Regions from separate parts of the Homo sapiens genome. Here all the other regions are linked to region 1. The links come from fine-mapping of genetic effects on gene expression. A gene starts in region 1. Each other region holds a variant in brackets. All regions are shown on one strand. Distances are between the middles of the regions. Region 1 holds the start of SREK1IP1 (SREK1 interacting protein 1). Region 2 overlaps SREK1IP1 (SREK1 interacting protein 1). Region 3 overlaps SREK1IP1 (SREK1 interacting protein 1).

Region 1 (6,651 bases):
TTACCTATAGTCTAGTTTAGGAATAAAGAAAAATTGGATGTAATTGAGAATTCTTCTATTACTAAGATACTATCATAATGTGTTTTAAAAATCTTATTCACTGTGATGTGCCAGACTGAAATGTTAGCTTGGCCACAGAAAAATTCCCTACCTTGGCTATAGGGCTTCAGTGAAGGAGATAATAAGAAAACAGTTTTGTGCCAATTACATCAGTAACATACGTTGCCACTTGTGCCAGTTCAGCTCTTCATGGAGAGTGGTGAATCACTGACATGAATGTTGGAGGTAATTTCAACAACTGTGAATGGGAAAAGCAGTTTTTTCAAAGAAAGTAAATTTCACTGAAACCTGTGATCAAATATTATTTCTATAATAACAACTAAGAGTAAGATTTTCCTAAATGCCTACATTTCATTGCATTACCTACATAATGGTATACGCTTATACACAATGCTATGGAAACACGGGTGAAGCACATGATCATAAAACAGACAAGGCTGATTTTTATGTGTGGTTTGCAGAAAGCAGCCTTGTTACTTTATAATCATACCTTGTCATAATCACTAGCAGGACCACCCCAAGAAATGCCAAACTGAATCCATTAAACCTAAAATTAAAGAGCCTAACATAATACTTGTCCTCCTTGATGATAACCTTGAAAAGTTTAGATTAGCCCTATTTTCCTTTAATACCCTGTCTGGATCGATCATCTAAGAAATTATCTTACGATTTTCTGTATCTGTATTTTCTAATGACACTTGCATTGTACTTTTACAGCACTGTCACACCTATTATCTCAATTATTGCTGGGTTTAAACAGTTTATAGCTTGCCATCTAGCTTAATGGCACAATTTAACATTATTATACTTTGAAGCACTATTTTGAATTGAAAGAAGGTTAACATATCTATAACACTGGTCTAAGTTTAAGAGAATTTTAATGAGGCCTTAAAAAATCACTTTTGTCCCCTTTCTTAAGTAGCACATTTTCATGTACTGCTTAAAGTTTTATGAGGGCACAGACTATGACACTGTGTCCTCCAGTGTGCCCATATCACACAGGTGCCCAAAAGGCTTGCTCAAGTAATGAAATGAGCAGTGATAACAGGTCAACTTTGGGTGCAGCTGTGTGGTATAAAGATCACTAGAGCTGACTCGGCCTATCAGGATGCCTAGGCAATCTACTGTGTAGGTTTATCTTTCGCTGCTGGCCTCTTAGATGTTGACCAGGCTTCAGCCACAGACCTTCCCTTCACATTCTACACACCATCTAAGCAGAGTGCTCCACTCCCATAGCCTTACCTCCTATTATGTGTGTGGGTAACACCCAAATCATTGTCTTTGACTCTGACTTCTTTCCTAAGCTACAAATTATATCTCTTACTATTAACTATTTGCATTCCTATGTCTGACTAACCTCAACACAACAAGCCCCAGACTGGATGTCATCATCATCCCCTTAACCCCTGCCCCTTGTGAGGTGTTGTCATGTCAGTAAACAGCCCCACCCAATTGCTTAACAGTAAAACCCAGGTAAACCTCATTTCCTCTTTTACCTACCCACACTGAATCAATCACCAACTCCTAGTGACTCTACCACCAAAAATGTATCTTCAATTTATCCACTTCTCTCCTTACCTATTGAGACCACATCTCAGCCACACATCATTATAACTCACCAGAATTACTCCTAACTGGTAAACTTTGTCTCCAATCTACTTTCTAGCCAGAATTATCTTTCCAAAATGTGAATCTGCTTTAAAATCCTTAAATGGCTTCCTGCCATCTGTAGGATAATGCCAAACCTCTTGTCATGGCCTACAGGTCCTTAAAGAGCTGGAAACTACCTTGTAAGTTATCCTATACGATGGCAAAATGAATGAAGTACACAGTCTAGAGGAACCAGACTGACTTCTTGCTTTCCAGCTGTCTCATAATAGGCAAATTACTTGATTTCTTTGTCCCTCAGTGTCCTCATCTGTAAAATGGGAATATTAATACTCATTTCACAGTGCAGTTGTGAATATTAAATGAGATAGAATACAATGTTTGATATAGTATCTGACATATTTGACTTATAAATATTAGTCAATATTAGCTACAGTTACTATCTACTTAATTTCTCACTTACCTCCCATTTGTATTTGAGTTCTATCCACAGAAAACATCTTTCATTCTGACATATTTGACACATAAATATTAGTCAATATTAGCTACAGCTACTACCTCTGTACTTAATTTCTCACTTATCTCCCATCTGTATTTGAGTTCCATCCATAGAAAACATCTTTCATTTCCTCTTTTCACATATTTCCTCTTCCTTTACGTATCCAGTTCCTCCGACTGCAGTCTCCTCTCCCTTCAAGCCACCCCTCCTACAATTCAGATCTCCTCCTAAGTGCTACCTCCTTTGGAAAGTCCTTCTGCCCATCCTGTATGTGTTTGGTGCCCTTACTTTGTGCTAAGGTCTTGTATTTTCCTTGCCATGGCACTTGTCCCACTTTCTGTAAATTTCTCTCTCTTCACTGCTAAATTCTAAGTTCTGTGTGAAGCGTAACCATGTCTACCTTGCTCACCACTGTATTTCCAATGCCCAGTACCAGTGCCTGGCACACAGTAGGCTTAATAAAGAGTGTACATTTCCTCTCTCACAGCTCCAGATGTACTCCTCCGCAAACTTCAGTTAGTACAAAAGCACAGTGTTCCAATAACAGCTATCTGTAGAAGGAGGTTCAAAAAGGCTGCCACAGAATAAAGAACCTGGTCAAATAATACTGGGAAGTGCAGGTTTAAACAAAGTTAGGGTTCTGAACCATAGTAATTCTATAGTTCATAGTAATTCTATAGCAATTCATAGTATTCTATTCTAATAGAATAGAATCTTTTCTATTACTAAAGTGCGCTGGGAATTTCCAAGTTGGGAGGTGGGGTGGAGAAGTGTGTATTTCTGAAAATGTCTCCTGCAATCAGTGTTCTGCAGTGGCAAAGCTGGTTTGAGGAGATGCTTTCCGCTACTAGAACTTCCAAGTAAGCTGGTAGTTGAGGACGAGAAAATCTTTTAAGTAATTATTCTGCAGAGTTCACCGTTTTTAGGTCAGTAACTTCTGGACATAGAATTTGAGAGTTAGAAGAAATCTTATATATAATTCAACAAAGCTCCTTCTTTTTATAAGGAAACTGAGGCCCAGAAGCACAAAGCGACCAATCTATGGCCACGGAGCAGCTACATACAACAGGAAGAGCTAGGAGTAGAACCCGCACACCCGGTGGGTCCTAGCGACTTCTAAGACAAACGATGCCTCCGGTTACCTGGGTCGGCCAAGTGTTCCCACTTCAAGTTTTAGTTTTAAGCCATACCACAGTTAAGGTAGTTTTTCTCGGCCGCTTGCCCCCTTAGGCCTACAGTTACAGTCTCTCCCTCCTCCCTCCCTTCCACAATACACTTTCCCTGTAATCCCAAGCAGCTGGGGCTTGGCTCCTGGGGGGAAGATAGTTATTTTCTTTCCTTCAGAGTTTATGTTTGGAGTGTAAACTTTTTCATGTAAACAAAACAAACCTGTGAATTTTAAGGCCTCCGCCTAAATCCCCATGGGCGCTGCTCCGTACACGCCGCACCCTACCCTACCCTCCCTTGCGCTCCCTTCGGAGCTCGGACGCAGAGGCCCTGTAATTGCTCCTTACCTGGGACTGCCATGACGGTGGTAAGAGGGGTAACTCGAGCCTCTGGCTTTCGAAAAGGCGCTTGCTTCCCGCCAGCTGTGAGAACAAGGCACAGTCAAAGCGGCGTTTTCCTTCCCCCAGCGCAGCAGCACCCTCGCTACGGTCGGGAAGGGCCTGTACGCCTCTAGCGACGGCAGAACCAGTAGATGCGGATGCAGTTTCCGGACGAGTCATATTGCAGAAGACACATGGTCCGAACCATTACTGATAGTTTTGGAGGGGGAGTTAGTTTGATCTGCACACGAGAGTAGTGTAAACACCGCCAACACTTATGAAGTGTCCCTTCTAATATTGTAATACAAATAACATAAATAACATTAAGCTATGGTAACTTTACGGACTTTTCTCGTTCCCTGGAGTACATTGGAATAACCCTTCTCAGGGTTAGCGGTGCTCGGGTCCGGTAACAACATGGCGGCGTCCGTGAGGGGCTCCTTTGGGCAGGGGTAGTGTTTGGTGTCCCTGTCTTGCGTGATATTGACAAACTGAAGCTTTCCTGCACCACTGGACTTAAGGAAGAGTGTACTCGTAGGCGGACAGCTTTAGTGGCCGGCCGGCCGCTCTCATCCCCCGTAAGGAGCAGAGTCCTTTGTACTGACCAAGATGAGCAACATCTACATCCAGGAGCCTCCCACGAATGGGAAGGTGAGAGCCTCATCTAGGGAACTTGGGGTCCTGGGATCCCCAAAGTGAGATTTCCCGGATTTGGGGTGGGGAGTGGGTTTCAGGATCTCGTGGTAGGAAGAGACCACGAGAAGTGTTGTCTTTACTCCTGCATGTGGACAATGTTGCATCGAAACACTGATGTTGGTACTTTTCAGGATGTACTTGAAGAAGTCAAGTGGAGATTTCTCTACCTACCAGCATTCCGGTCCTATTTAATGCTTTAACCCAACTCATGCAGCCGATTTCTGGGGTCTTAGGTTTTTAAACAGACATTTTTGAGTTTGATATATTCTTTGCTTAACTAAGGTCATTCATTCTCCATTTCTTCTACAATCATTAATTGAACGCCTGCGAGGCACTGGGCACTGTACTAGGCGCCGGAGATACAAAGATGGATGGGTAAGGTAGTTGTTTTCCCGGAAAAGCTTATAGTTTAGTTTGTGAGACAGACAGGTAAACAAAAGCCTGTATGTCTGATAAGCGTGCTTGTGGAGAAGAGACCAGGTTGCTATGGCGGTACTGAGTAGTGAACAACTGGGGAAGTTAGGAAAAGCCTCATGGAAAAGATATCTTTTGAGCTGGTTTTAAAACCTGAGATGACTGTCAGTCAGAGAAAGTGGGAAATGGGGACTATTACCACATTAGAATGGGGAAAGGTTTCTCTGATTGATTTGATGGCTAATGTATGCCAATTCCCATCCAAGATGTTTGTATGCTGTACAAGGCAGAAGAGTCTGTTGTGGAATAAGTGTCACCTGAATTCTTAAATTGAGACCTAGCTTATATCACATATGAAATTTGATGAATCAGCATATTGGAGAAAATGAGATTGGAAGTATATAGTTGAATTAAGATAAGCTAAATTTACACAACATACCATCCTGTTTGTTACATGATTGCATCATAAATAATTTATACAGTCTTTTATTCATTGACATTTGATAATGTAATGAGAGCAATTTAAAAGTGAAACCAAAAATGCTGTAATTCCCAGCAAAAATGTAATGGATATTTTATGGGCAGACCAATTCTTTCAATTCTTTGTTTGAACTTCTCCTGGGCATTGTAGATTAGTATGTCCATCCCACCCCTCACCTATCTTATTTAATATCAATGTGAAAACCCAAAATACCTACCTCCTCCTATTTCCAAATGTTTCTTGAGGGCAATATCACCCCCAGTTAATAAACACTGGTAGAGATTGAATAGATTTACCATCCTGCCAGACAGGGCCTTCACACTTGCTGTTCCTCTGTCTAATCAAGTGTTGACCTTAGCAAAGAGCCCTTTCTTATCTACTTTCTATGAAATAGCAAACTTCAATCATGCCTTGCATCCCAGCAGTCTCTGGCCCCCTTAACCTTTTTAGTTTTTTTCATGGTATTTATTAATTATTTAGTATTACTGTATCCTTCCTCCTACCTTCCCCCTATAGAATGTAAGGAACATAAGGGCAGAGACAAGCATCTGGAACAGTACTTGATACATGATAGAAGGAGTTCAGATAGGTATTGAATAAATGAATGGATGGATGAATTAATACTATATTTTTCTTAGTTTTTGAGAAGTATTAAGCATCAGTGAGTTTGAGGTTATACTGCTGGTCAAGGACAGACTTAATTGCTTTATTCTAAAGCAAGATTTGACATGGTCATATAGATGAAAAGCTTTAACAAGGATACATTCCTGAATAGATTATTCATTCAACAAATAATGATTGAGCAAATCAATTGCCAGGCTCTATGCTAGGTTTTAGGGAGACAATGGAAAGAAAACACAGCATTGACTCAGTTGTCATGAGTTAGTTGAGTGAAGTATACATTGACTGAATAATCATGCAAATAAATGTTTAATTACAAAATGTGATAAATACTATCTTCTGAACAGAAATAGGCTGAATGATAACATAAGGGCCCAAGTTTTCATCCAAAAACAGCTTGGGACTTTTTCCAGCATAAGGCTCATCAAAGATATTAAAGCTTCTAAGTTCTGTAAGGTTAAGAGTGTGGACAAAAATTTGGTCTGTGAAGAATTTGAAGCACATGTAATAAGTCTGTTCAACGAATGTTTATTGCCTTTACTATCTAATGGTACATTAGGTGCTGAAAGCGTACAGAGACATTCAGAGTAAATGGGACAAAATTCCTCCCTTCAAAGAACTTAGTATCAGCTTGGGAAGTAATTGATACATGATACCAGTGCTTGGTCCCTGGTTGTCCATAAATGTTCTGTGTTTTGCTGTAACCCTAGCCCCTGAAGATGAGG
Region 2 (6,651 bases), 24 kb before region 1:
CTCTTACATAAACTATAAAAGAGATCTTAGTAAGTATAATGGAAAGCATGATATAATATGACAGAACATTTACAAACATTTCTAAAGAATGGAAAAAAATATTGCTTACTTTTTTCCTGTAATGCCTGCAATTTATTCAGTTCTTCATTCTCTTCATCGCTATCTTCACTACTTGTACTGCTGACATCCAAAACTATGTCCCTTTTAGGGTCTACTCGGAGAAAATTGCGGCATTCAAAAGTCAGGTGACCAGCTAAGTGAAACAAACAAAAAAAATGTGAGTGATAAAACTATAGATACATTATGTATTTTTGTATGTTTTGCTGCCTCACGGTAACCAGTAAGTTACAATTTCAATAATATAATGTAGAAAGCTTTAACTTTTATTCAGTTGGTAGTAGTTTGGTTATTTTCCCTATACTTTTCCATGAATGCAATACTCAGAAAGAACTTTTTCCTTTCTTCCTCAGAACTCCTTATTCAATAAGCATTTTTGGGGGCCACTTCTTATGGATTTCAAAGTATTGAGTTATTCTATTTCCCTTTCTAAAAATACAGTAATATCTTTAACTAAACTAAGTAAATAAAAAATACCATCATACTTGGGATTTTATATTATATTCCTTTCCCATACCTTTTCTTTCCCAGTTTGACAAATGTACTCATGCAATTATATACCTTTCATCTAATTAAAGTTGGCATAATAATATACAAGCATTAATATAACTGAATGTGCTTTACTAAAGAATACCTAAACATTTAATTCTTGCATCATTTCCCTAAAGACTCTACCCTATAAGAAAACTACAACAGTTATCTACTTATGTATATGTTTTAGAAAGTCAAATATTACAAACACTATAAAAGTAAAGAAAATAATATAACCAATACCTAAATACCTATCATCCAAATGTTAACATTTTGTCATGCTCACTTTCAATTCATTTAAGGAAAAAGCTCACTCGCATGCCTGTGCGCACACACACACACAGCTGGAGAGCTTGTATCAACTTTTGGAACACTTTCTCAATCTCATTCCATTTTTTTTTTTTTGTCCTCTGAAGCAACTGCACTGAAGTTGGTCTCTATCATTCCCAAACAACATATTGTGATATGTATTCTTAAAAAAATAAACTCAATTATACCTATACCTGCAATTTTTTCCTGCCACCCAATATTTTGTGATTTATCTATGTTAACATAACAGGTGTAATTTGCTCATTTTATCTAATCGATAATGTTCTACTGTATGAAAATTATATTTATTTGCTGTACTATTGATAGAAACGTAGGTTGCTTCCAGTAGTTTGCTATTATAAAAAGTGTTTAAATGGGCAGTTGTACATGTCTCTTTGTGCACATGTACTAGGTTTTCTTTAGGGTAGCAGCTTTCAAGTTTTCTTAACAACCGAGAACAGTAAAAAATAATGCAAACAAGTGCACTCATACACACATTCATGGATAAATACACCCTAACACACAAAAACTGAAACAAAAGTTAATTGAAAGATTTCTATATTCAATGTTCAAAACAACCAAGGCTAATGGTGATCAAATAATTCATTTCACGATCCACTAATGATTCACTACAAATCTATGCTAGGGGTTGTTTCCAGTTGTCTCTTATTTTGTGGGTGAAGTCCTTTGGGAGTCCTAGGTTTATACCAGAGACTCTCTAAATAGAGTTCCAATTTGGCTTGGGCAGGGCCCTGGGCCTTATTTTTATCCCCCACATCCTGCCAGCCCATAAAAAATAGAAGTTCAAGAGCCTAGGGTTCATCAAATATCCTCAAGGCTTAATTCCTGGAACTTCTCCTTTCCTTTGGTTGTTGGCCTTTGAATATTCTTAGTTCTTTATTTTTTTCTAGTATATTAATGTATCTAAAATATGTATTGCACATTTTATACAAGTTTCTTAGTTGTTTCTTAGTCTAGTCTGCCATATTATTGGAACAAGTTTTCCTCACTGTGATTTCCTAACAAATGAATCATTCAGAAGCACTCTTTTTAGCTTCCAAACATATGGAGTTTTCAGGCTTTGTGTTTATTGTCAATCTCTAAATTTACTACACTGTTATCAGAGAATGGGATCTGTATGATATTAGTTCTTTGGTATTTGATGAGACTTCTTTTGTGGCCTAGGATGTAGTAAATTTAGGAAAGATTTGTTATGTATTTTGAAAACACAGTCATATACTGCATAATGGTGTTTAGGTCAATGATGGACCACATAGACAACACAGGTCCCATAAGATAATAATACTGTTCCTTGTCAATGTTTAGATATGTTTAGACACACAAATACTTACTACTGTGTTACAACTGCCTACACTATTCAGTACAGTAACATGCTATACAGGTTCATAGCCTAGCAACAATAGGCTATACCATGTAGCCTAGGTGTGTAGTAGACTATACATCCAAGTTTGTGAAAGTACACTCTATAATTTCCACACAAAGATGAAATTGCCTAATGACACACTTCTCAGAATGTATCCCTGTTGTTAAACAACACAACCATATATTGTTATTTGTTGAAAAGGGTTCTATATCTGTTTGCTTGTTCAACTCTTCTCCATCTTAATTTTTTTGTCTAATAACTTCTGATAGAAGTACTTAAAATTATACAAGTATTGATTTGTCAATAATTGCTATTATAAATAATGTTGAAATGAGCAGCTGTAGACATCTCTGTGGGCATGCACCAGGTTTTCTCTAGGGTAGATTTGTCAATTTCTCCTTGTAACACAGATTTTGCTATATATTTTGAGACATTAGTAAATGCTTTGAAGATCATTACTTTATCTTTTTAGTTTATTGTTCGTGAGTTTCCACTTATCACCAGTAGTGCTTTTGCCTCAAAAGTCTGAAATTATAATGGTTCTGTTATAGTAGGTAGCTAGTCAGGCATGAGTGGAGCAGGAGAGGGCTCCCCCACTCACAAAGGAACATCAGGCAACCATCAAGTGATGGTCCAGCAGCTGTCACACTGTCTCTCTAAAATGATAATTGGTCACAGCCAGTGCCAGGGAGAAGCAGTTTCTGAACAGATAAAAATACCTGAAATTGATAATCAGCAGCTTCCAATAAGATCTC[A/C]GGAACCGGGCAAGTGGACACAAGCATGTGCATTAAGAGGCAAAAATGAAGGAGTATGACCTTCTGGGGGCATTCCACCAGAAAAGGGAAGAAAAAGCCTCAGGTGAACATGTGTACAACTCCAGTAAACACACTGTGCATGCTCACCTCCCAAGCGCAGGTAGGGCACCATGCATAAGAGAACAATGAAGGGAAAGGGGTGCAAGACGCTGGAAGTAAGCCAGCATGTAAAATGCTAGGTTCAATGTTAATTGGGGCACTTAACCTCAAGGTGCCTGTCTGGGCCTCTTCCAAGTATATTTTCCTTTCTTTCGTTCCTGCTTTAAAGCTTTTTAATAAATGTCTACTCCTGCTCTGAAACTTGCCTCAGTCTCTTCTTCTGTCTCATGACCCTCAGTAGAATTCTTTCTTCTGAGGTGGCAAGAATAGAGGTTGCTGCAGACCTGGACGGATTCGCCACCGGTAACTAGGATACCCACCACCGCTAACAGTTCCACTAGTGCTCTTTTGTTTATTATTCGTTGGGTAATATGAAATTGCCATTTTTGTAGGTAAAATAGTGGAATATCAGCAATGTTCAATCAAATATGTGTTTTTTCCTTGTCCCTTTATTTTGAAAATTTCTGTGTAGTTTTTAGTTTTATGTGTAGTTTTATTAATCACAACACGTAGTTGGACTTAATTTTTTAAATTTGATTTGATATCAGCACAATTTTTAACATTAATTTCTTAGCATGGGAAAAATAGTTCCTGCTTCACAGGAAGCCGTGTAAATTCACTCCTCATACTTACATATACTTACAAGGTATAGGCTGAGGTTGCCAATTCTTATTTGTTTTCTTCTAATTATCTTATGGGAACTCAAACACACTATACGCATTCTTGCTTCTTTCAGTGAGTGAAATTTTTTCTAATCCCTGCTTCACAGCCTTTTTAAGGAGTCTGACTTTACTTGAGGGGCTCCACCCTTGCCATACTGCCATCCCCAGGGCTTGAAAGTGTCACTCCACAGCTCTTAAACACCTACCCAGTAGGCCTGTGGATCCACTGTTTTCAGTAAGATTCCCTGCTCTGACTTTGAGCTCATTTTCTTGTCTAGCACCTGGGGATTTCCCTTTCATTCTTTTGAGTTGGGTTTTTTTGTTGTTGTGGTTGCTGTTGACATAACACTTTTTTCCTCCTGCATTGTTACATGTTTGGAGCAGAATGGTGGGCTTTCTAGGTTGGTTTGGCTTGCCTCTTTGATCAGAACTCCTGATGATACAGGCTGGGCATGGTGGCTCATGCCTGTAATACCAGCACTTAGGGAGGCTGAGGCAGGTGGATCACTTGAGTCCAAGAGTTCAAGACCAGCTTGGCCAACATGGCGAAATCCTGTCTCTACTAAAAATACAAAAATTAACGGCATGGTGGTGCATGCCTGTAATTCCAGCTACTCAGGAGGTTAAGGCACAAGAATTGCTTGAACCTGGGAGGTGGAGGTTGCAGTGAGCTGAGATTGTGCCACTGCACTCCAGCCTGGGCAGCAGAGTAAAACTGCCTCAAAAAAAAAAAAAACTCCTGATGCTCAATCTTTACAGTACTTAAGCTAGCTTTGTACCCAAATACCTCTCATCCTCTCATTGAAATGAATATTAAAAATAAATAAAATGCTTAAATAATGACCATACTGGTAGCAGTCTCTGCCCCACATCCATTTTAGCTTTGCTTCAAGCAAAGCGACCCTAAGGTGATAAGACAAATTAATTGCAAAACTACAAATAAAGTTTCTTACTGATTTTTTTTTCTATTGGGGAATAAGTTAGTGAAGCCTAGGTAATAACTGTGTTGCAAATTACAGTTCTTATGGCTAGCAATCTAAATGTTCTTACAGCAAACAATGTAGAAGAAAAAAAAAGGTGGAGGATTCACCCTTCTGGATTTTAAAATTTATTATAAATCTATAGCAATCAAAGCAGTTGGTACTGGCATAAGAATAGACACACAGACCAATGGAATAGAATTGAAAGTCCAGAAATAAACCCACATATACATAGCGAACTGAGTTTTAGCAAGAGTGAAAGTCCATCCAGTGTGGAAAGAATTGTCTTTTCAACAGATGGTACAGAGACAACTTTTCCACATGGGAAAGAATGTAGTTGGACCCCTCACCTCAGACTATATGTAAAAATTAACTAAAAATGGGTCAAATAAAATAAAATATAAAACCATAAAGCTCTTAGAAGAAAGCATAGGAGTAAATGTTCATTACCTTGGATTTGGCAATGGATTCTTAGATCTAACACCAAAAGCACAAGCAACAAAAGAAAAAAATTGATAAAATGGTCGTCAGAATTAAAAACTTTTGTGCAAAATTATCAGGAAAGTGAAAAGGGAGAATATATTTGCAAATCATCTATCTGGTAGAGCTTAATATCCAGAATACATAAAGAACAACTATAACTCAACAAAAACACAACCTAGTTAAAAAATGAGCAAAGGCCTTGAATAGACATTTGTCTATAGAAGAAATACAAATGGTGAATAAGCACATGAAAAGATACTTAACATCATTAGTCATTAAAGAAATGCAAATCAAAACCACAATGAGGTACCACTTCATACCTATGAGGATGATCTGAATTGTTTCTACTCACAACGCTTCTGACATCAAATGTGTGGGTTTTTTCCACACCAACAGCCAGTTCTCCAACTTTCTGGACACTAACTGGGTGTTCAACAATTCAATTCAATTCTGTTACTACCCAGGGTTAGCACAAGTTAAGGGCTCAGACCCACAAGACTATTCCCATTTCTGATGCCTATAGCGAGTCTAGGCCACCCATACTTCTGACCAGCCAGCTTTATAAGGTCAGGGGGTTCCCATAACCCCATTCTCAAATTCGAAAATTTGCTAGAAAGGCTCACAGAACTCAGCAAAACAGTTTACTTACTATTACCTGTTTATTATATAGCACGGAACTCAGAACAGCCAAATGGAGGAGATGCGTAGGGCAAAGAAGGGGCATAGGGAAAAGAAGGGGCATAGAGCTTCCATGTGCTCTCTGTGTGCCACAATCGTGGCACTTCTGTGTGTTCACAAACCCAGCAGCTCTCTGTACCCTGTAGTTTAGGGGTTTTTATGAAGGCCCCATTAGATAGGCGTGATTGATTCAATCACTGACCACTGGTGATTAAATTCAATCTCTAGCTCCTCATCCTTCTCCCCTTTCTAGAGGTCTGGAAGTGGGGCTGAAAGCTCCAACTTTCTAATCACATGGATTGTTCCTCTGGCAAATGGCCTCCATCCTGAAATTATCTAGGAGCCTCCCAAGAATCGCCTTATTAGTATAAACTCAGGCATGGTTGAAAGGGGCATGCTATGAATAATAAAAGATGCTCCTATCACCCGTATCACTCAGGAAATTCCAAGAGTTTTAGAAGCTCTGTGTCAAGAACCAGGGACAATGACCAAATATACATTTCTTATGATCATAAATGGCTATTTTTTAAAAGGGAAAATACGAGTGTTGGCAAAAAGGTAGAGAAATTAGAGCCCTTGTATATTTCTAGTGG
Region 3 (6,651 bases), 43 kb before region 1:
TGCTTGAAGAAGTTGAACGTGTTTATTATATTAATAAATTCAACCTTTACTATTATAGAATGTTATAATAATTTCTAAAGTGAATATTGCTTGAATTTTAAAATATTGATAATTATATATATTAAACCTTGAAGTGATTTCAGAGATAATCTGGTACAATATTTTATAGACGAAAGACACCAAGGCCCAGGGAAACTAAGTGACTTTGTTCAAGATCATACAGGTAGTTAGAATGACCAGGACTGTTTTACTGCTAAATTCAGTTTTCCTTCTGGTACATACTGCCTGGGAGGGAATTTCATTAATTTTCTTCTAAAACATATTCATGAGATTTGCATCCAATCTCAATAATAATATCATATTAGAAGAAAATTACTTCAGTGAAAATAAATTTTTATTCAATTTCATAAACTATGCTAAAATTATGGGAAATTTACTTAGAAATGCCAACATCATTTCTGGGGGGAAAATTACTGATCATTAAAATATTTTAATTTGCATACTACATTAGTTAACGAGGACTGACTTTTGCTCTTCTCAGTCATTATTGTGTCACCATTCAGAAACCTAATGAGCCAATTTATAATCTCTACAATTAACAGTAATAAAACTTACAAGTAATTAACTATTTCACTACAATTACTATCATTTTTAACTATCTTACTCAATGGAATAAGGTCATTGCCTTTGTAGCATTTTCTAATTATTTTTTAATATTTTATTTTACTGTTATTTTTTCAAGGCTAGTCAAGTCAAGCAGTGGGAGTAAAGAAACACCACTGCACTTGTGCCAGCCTCGTTTTTAAAAAAGCTTTATATTAAAAACCGATTTTTAAAATCTTGATAATCGAAGAATATTTTCAAAAAACTAGCAGCAAAGGCAAAACAAATCCCTAAAAACCTACTGGCTCTGTATTTTTTCTCCCAGTAACTGACTGACCTATTTAAACAAAAGCATTTCCTTTTGAGAGGCCCAAATGACTAAATTAGGTTATGGAAGGGTTGAAAGCGTGAGAGCTCTCATGGCTGCAATGCAGAGGGCTGTGGATACAGCTTCCCTAGAATTTAAGCATGGGTAAGCATATGTTAAGAGGAGTTATAAGGCTCCCTGAGTCTTACTGAGGGTATCCACATTGGGTGCCAGGTGAAACAAGAATCAGTAAACCTTTCTAGCCTGTGAGGTTAAGTATACTTAGCTGATTTCACTATCATGAATTCACCTGCAGCCGTATCTATAGGTTATCAATTTGAAAATTTCTAAGCGCACCATAGTGAGGTATTTGCAATCTTTGGTGCTGTGCCATGACATTGGTTGATGTTCGATGCTTCTACAACATAAGCATTTACTTTAGTGGACATAAGGGCTACCTAAGTATTAAGCAAAGTAACACTGATCAATGTGAAAATAGAAATTTAAAAAACGTATCTACTAATATGTGTTTGAAAATGCTTACCCATATAAAATTTCCATTATTATACAAAGGCTTTCATGATGCAACTCCCTGGCTCTTAAATTTTAAAAAGTACAGAATAAAATTCTCAATTCTTTTTTTGACACTTTTTACTCTTGAGTTTGCCACTAAAGTAAAAGAGAGAAACATCCCAAACTGGTCATTTATGAAAACGTTAAGTTCAGTGTGAAACTTGCTTTAAAACTACAAATTATGTCAGACAAAATAAATATATATGCTCACATTTATAAAATTTTCCACAGTACTCATAGAAACAAGCTTCATAAAATTTATACTGAATACAATAAAAATCAGTTCTAATAAAGATTTAGCTATCTTCCTAAATAAAAATTTCTGTGTTTGAGGTATCACTGTAAGACATGCCAATATGGCACATTTGTAAAACAACCCAGGAGTCTATTCTAAAAATCACAACCAACTCAGCATCATCTCTGCAGACTTACTAACAGGCTGAACTAATCTCTTTATACAAGAAGTATTTTAATTATTACAAAAACAAAGGAGGCAGGTACTAGAAATTCTGCATTTCATAGAAGAGTAAAACTTTGTTAGAGATATTTTCATGATCATCTACCTGCAGACACCATTCATTTAAAAAGTCCTAGTCAAGACCATTAAGCAGCTGCATCTTCTACAACATTGAAAAAAAATCCCTAGAGATTTAAAAAACTGAAGAATTTCACTATCTTTAAAAGATATTATATTTTAGTACATAAAGCTATTAAATTTCTCTGTGTCAAGAGCAAAACATTACCCCTTACCTTGCTTCATCATTGGAAGGTGGACACCTGATCCAGCAATACTCATTAACTGCTAGGTAGATGACCCATGTTGATGGCAGTAAAGCCATTTTACAATGAACTTATGAAGTAGTAACACTAGCCAAACACACAGAGACACAAATACCAAAAATGATGTGTTTAGTATACACAAATAGCTATACTTGGGGCATGGCTATCAAGTAACAAGACTGATTTAATACTTTACAGTTACAGCACATTAAAAATATATTGCCAGAGGGATAATGGTCCCAAATACGAAAAATGTCTATATGGAAAAGGCTGTGATTTATTGCAAAGCATAATATATAGCAAATTCCAAGGAAGGGCAAACACGTTTTAAAAACAAATTTTTAAATTTAACGGCTTAAGCCAAAGTCTCAGTTACTTTCTGGAGAATTCAGAACTATTAGGTGTAGAAGAATGCTTTTCCTTTTTTCTCTTCTTTTTTTCCTTTTTGTGATGTTTCCCTTTTTTTGATTTACTCTT[T/G]TTTTCTTTTTTCTTTTCTTTCTTCTGATATTTTTGTTTCTTTTGTTTTGAAGTGTCCTCTTCAGTGGAACTGGATGAGTAAGACCTATGGATAATAATACATACTGACTGAGAATTGCATTTATGACTGATAGATAAATTTAAGTGGGATTTGAACTGCCTTAAATTCTTCTTGGAGTAAGGTAGGGAGTATAAACATAAACTTAAAAAATGCTTCATATATTTGCATTCCCTTAAAACGATGAATTTAGAATTTTTGCTGCTTGGTCACAGAAACCAACAAAACTAGTATCTATTCCACTCAATACTAATGTAATGAGTTTTAAAGTCAATAAGGATGAAATTATTTTTCTGTGATTTTTGGTTTTTCATGCAGTCATATCATTCAAAATCCTAAAAGGCAAACAAAGGGGCATTCACCAAGCCTTATTATATTCACTTGTGTATACAATAACTTCGCATATTTTCTTAAAAGTGTCTCAAAAGTTGCAATTCTCTATTTTAAAGGGCTATAATTGTACGTTCATATGAATGAATGAAAGCTGAAAGTTAGCAAAATAAAAGCACTTTTGGTAATTCTTCTGATTTTTCAAGTACTTGATCCCTCTAGACGGAGAGTGATACAGATGAATACTTGCATTACAAAATAATTTTCATTAGTTACAAAAGGATGCTTTTATGCTATATATAAATGAAAAAGGATGGGTTATCATTGTGCTTTTGAAAAATATTACTCTAATACTAAATTGAAAAAATTGGTTCAATTCCTTCCTCTAATATTCATAAAAAAAAGGAAAAGAAAAAGAAAAAAACAGAAAACCCTATCTTTTAAGATCTTACTTAAAGAGATGTGCAACATTCTACCTATACTCAAACTCAAAATATGAGTGACAAGACAGAAACTGAGTTAATTTAAAATGTAAACAAAGGTATCTAAAGAGTTAGTTTAGTGATCTAAATATTAGGAGTTAAAACTCAAACTAAGAAAATCTGAGACGGATATAAAGGAGGTGCCAATGTAAATTCAGGAGACTACAGGGCTCCAAGGCTATTTTGTGTCTGTATAGTGTGTGAATTCCTTGACTGCCTTCCTCCTTTAGTGACTCCGAGTTTTCCCTTATTTTTGTAATGTTGTGTTCCTTTTTCCTCCTTGTTTGTCTACTTACTTAGACTTCCAATCATCTGTTAAAGCTTATTTTCTCATGTATTCTCCTGCACCCTTGCCTCTTCAGTTGTTATTCTCAAATCTTGTCTATTTTCCTCTTTTAAAGACCCTGTTTGACTTGACCTCTGGATTCTGACTAAAGCTTCTTCCCTGCCTGCACTTTTTTCTTTAGCTTTTTGGTCCTGAAGTTTTTTTTTTTGTTTGTTTCTTTTTTTTTTTTTTTTTTCTGAGACAGAGTTTCACTCTTGTTGCCCAGGCTGGAGTGCAATGGCGTGATCTCGGCTCACTGCAACCTCCGCTCCCCCGAGTTCAAGCAATTCTCCTGCCTCAGCCTCCCAAGTAGCTGGGATTACAGGTACCCACCTGTAATCCACCAGCTAATTTTTTTTGTATTTTTAGTAGAGATGGGGTTTCACTGTGTTGGCCAGGCTGGTCTCAAACTCCAGACCTCAGGTGATCGACCCACCTTAGCCTCCCAAAGTGCTGGGATTATAGGAGTGAGCCACCGTGCCTGGCCTGAAGTCTCCTTTTTAAGGCAAAATTTCAGGCTGTGGCATAGCAACACTTTCAGGGGGCACTATCTCTGCTAAGTGTGCACAGAAAAGTTAATTTAATTTCAGGTTTGTGATGCTCAAGGTAAAGAGGCCCAAATAAATAATCTGTTACTATAAAAAATATTTGGGAGGCTGAGGCAGGCGGATCACAAGGTCAGGAGATTGAGACCATCCTGGCTAACACGGTGAAACCCTGTCTGTACTAAAAATACAAAAAAATTAGTCGGGCATGGTGGTGGGCACCTGTAGTCCCAGCTACTGGGGAGGCTGAGGCAGGAGAATGGAGTGAACCCGGGAGGCGGAGCTTGAAGTGAGCTGAGACTGTGCCACTGGACTCCAGCCTGGGCAACAGAGCGAGACTCTGTCTCAAAAAAAAAAAAAAAAAAGAAATATACAGATGTACTTCAACTTATGATGGAGTTACGCCTTGATAAATCTATCTGAAGCTGAAAATACACAAAATACAGCTAACCTACTGAACATCATAGCTTAACGTGGCTGCCCTTAAATATGCTCAGAACACTTACATTAGCCTCTAGTTGGGCAAAATCATCTAACACAAAGCCTATTTTATAATAAAGCATTGAATATCTCATGTAATTTATTGAATACTGTCCTGAAAGTGAAAAATAGAATGGTTGTATGGGTACTTGAAGTACATTTCTACTGCACCATCATAAAGTTGAAAGATCATATCAAACCACATAAATTGGGAACTATCTGTATTAGAATTTGGAAGACTATCAGATATCATTTCCTGTGAGCAATCCATCTTCCTGTGCTAGAATAAATGATTTAATAATACATTAACAGAAAACCCTGAGCTCTAAATTCCTATTTGTTTTTATATTAAAGATTATTAGTTAACTCCTAACGCTTGAAAGTGGGCTACTTTTCCAATTTATAAGATACCTGAAATATTAAAATACATGTATTAAATGCTCTATAAAAACTACAAAGTGGCAGCCCCTGGTTTCTACAACCTATTCTGTATGAGAACTGGGTCTAAACTAGAAATAATTATGGTTAAGTGCTTTTAAAAAATGCCTGTATGTGCAAATTTATGCTAGTATGAATGAAACTGCACGCATTAACAAGAGAAGTGGCCACTTACTACTTTCAATAACTTCTTTAACCAGTTAGTTTTTAAAAGAGTTAATAGTAAAAATGCACAGGTGGCCGAAGACTGGAAGGAAGTTGTGATGCTAAAAATTCCTTCAGGTCTTTCACAACCCTCATCAGCCACCATATATATATATATATATGAAACTGTCAGGCTAAATACATATAAATACAAAGGTGTGTGTATGTGCATATAATTACATATATATATATATATATATATATTTTTTTTTTTTTGGTGGGCGGGGGGCAGATAGGGTCTTGCTGTGTTGCCCAGGCTGGAGTACAGTGGTGTGATCATGTCTCCTGGGCTCAAGCAATCCTCTCACCTCAGCCTTCCACATAGCTGGGAACACAGGTACATGCCACCACACTTGGATAATTTTTCTTTTACTTTTTGCAGAGATGAGGTCTCCCTATGTTGCCCAAGCCTGTCTCAAACTTCTGGGCTCAAGCCATTCTCCTGCCTTGACCTCTCAAAGTGCTGGGATTATAGGCATGAGCCATCGCACCTGGACAGCATGACAAGTTCTATTAAATTCTATTAATAAGTTAATTTATTAGCCATGGTAATATTACAAGAATACAAATATTTTAGTCAATTTCATGTATATGAAGACAAAATATATATTAAGAGTTTAAACTTAAGCTCAATGAAAAGCTTAGTTGTTGAAGAAAAAATATTAAATTAACTATTATACACAAAAAATAAAATTTTATAATCCATCCTAAACTCATAGGCCTGCTTTGTTTTTTAAAATGTTGTTCAAAAAATACCTTTTCCTTTTTTTTTTCAATTTGATTTTTTCTTTGCTTTTTTCTTTCTTCTTTTCCTCTTCTTCATTTATTCCTGTGGGGGAGAGGTGAGAAGAAAAAAATCTGGTTAATATATGATTCTATATATTAATATGGCATGTATATATGTTAAAATTTTAGCTGTTGGTGAATTTCACTGGTTAGGATAATTTTTGTAATAATTTTCCCCTTTCTTAATTATCTTTATCCATTAAAAAACTCATAAAAGTATTAAATGTTTTTTATAAACATTTCAAATACTAAGTCCATCAAGT

Evidence for each region. PIP is the estimated chance that this variant, and not a neighbour inherited with it, causes the effect.
Region 2: its variant is fine-mapped to the expression of SREK1IP1 in whole blood (INTERVAL, PIP above 0.99).
Region 3: its variant is fine-mapped to the expression of SREK1IP1 in whole blood (TOPMed, PIP 0.97).

Annotation. Positions count from the first base shown.
Region 1 is chr5:64,764,824-64,771,474 of GRCh38, forward strand. SREK1IP1 (SREK1 interacting protein 1) reads right to left here and starts at 3,868. Exons shown (of 5, transcript NM_173829.4): 1 at 3,682-3,868. The coding sequence starts at 3,694. CWC27 (CWC27 spliceosome associated cyclophilin) reads left to right here and starts at 4,107. Exons shown (of 14, transcript NM_005869.4): 1 at 4,107-4,365. The coding sequence starts at 4,324. It overlaps LOC124900985 (a long non-coding RNA gene), which reads right to left and starts at 3,673. Exons shown (of 4, transcript XR_007058787.1): 1 at 2,132-3,673; 2 at 152-298. RefSeq lists silencers at 1,417-1,556, 3,619-3,913 and enhancers at 3,152-3,878, 3,250-4,449, 3,601-3,690, 3,841-4,160, 3,879-4,603.
Region 2 is chr5:64,740,948-64,747,598 of GRCh38, forward strand. SREK1IP1 (SREK1 interacting protein 1) reads right to left here. Exons shown (of 5, transcript NM_173829.4): 3 at 110-253. Among named protein-coding and RNA genes, the nearest start is that of SREK1IP1, 24 kb to the right of the region's middle. The variant A/C (reference allele first, on the strand shown) is at 3,097.
Region 3 is chr5:64,721,749-64,728,399 of GRCh38, forward strand. SREK1IP1 (SREK1 interacting protein 1) reads right to left here. Exons shown (of 5, transcript NM_173829.4): 4 at 6,359-6,431; 5 at 1-2,825. The coding sequence ends at 2,636. Among named protein-coding and RNA genes, the nearest start is that of SHISAL2B, 35 kb to the left of the region's middle. The variant T/G (reference allele first, on the strand shown) is at 2,741.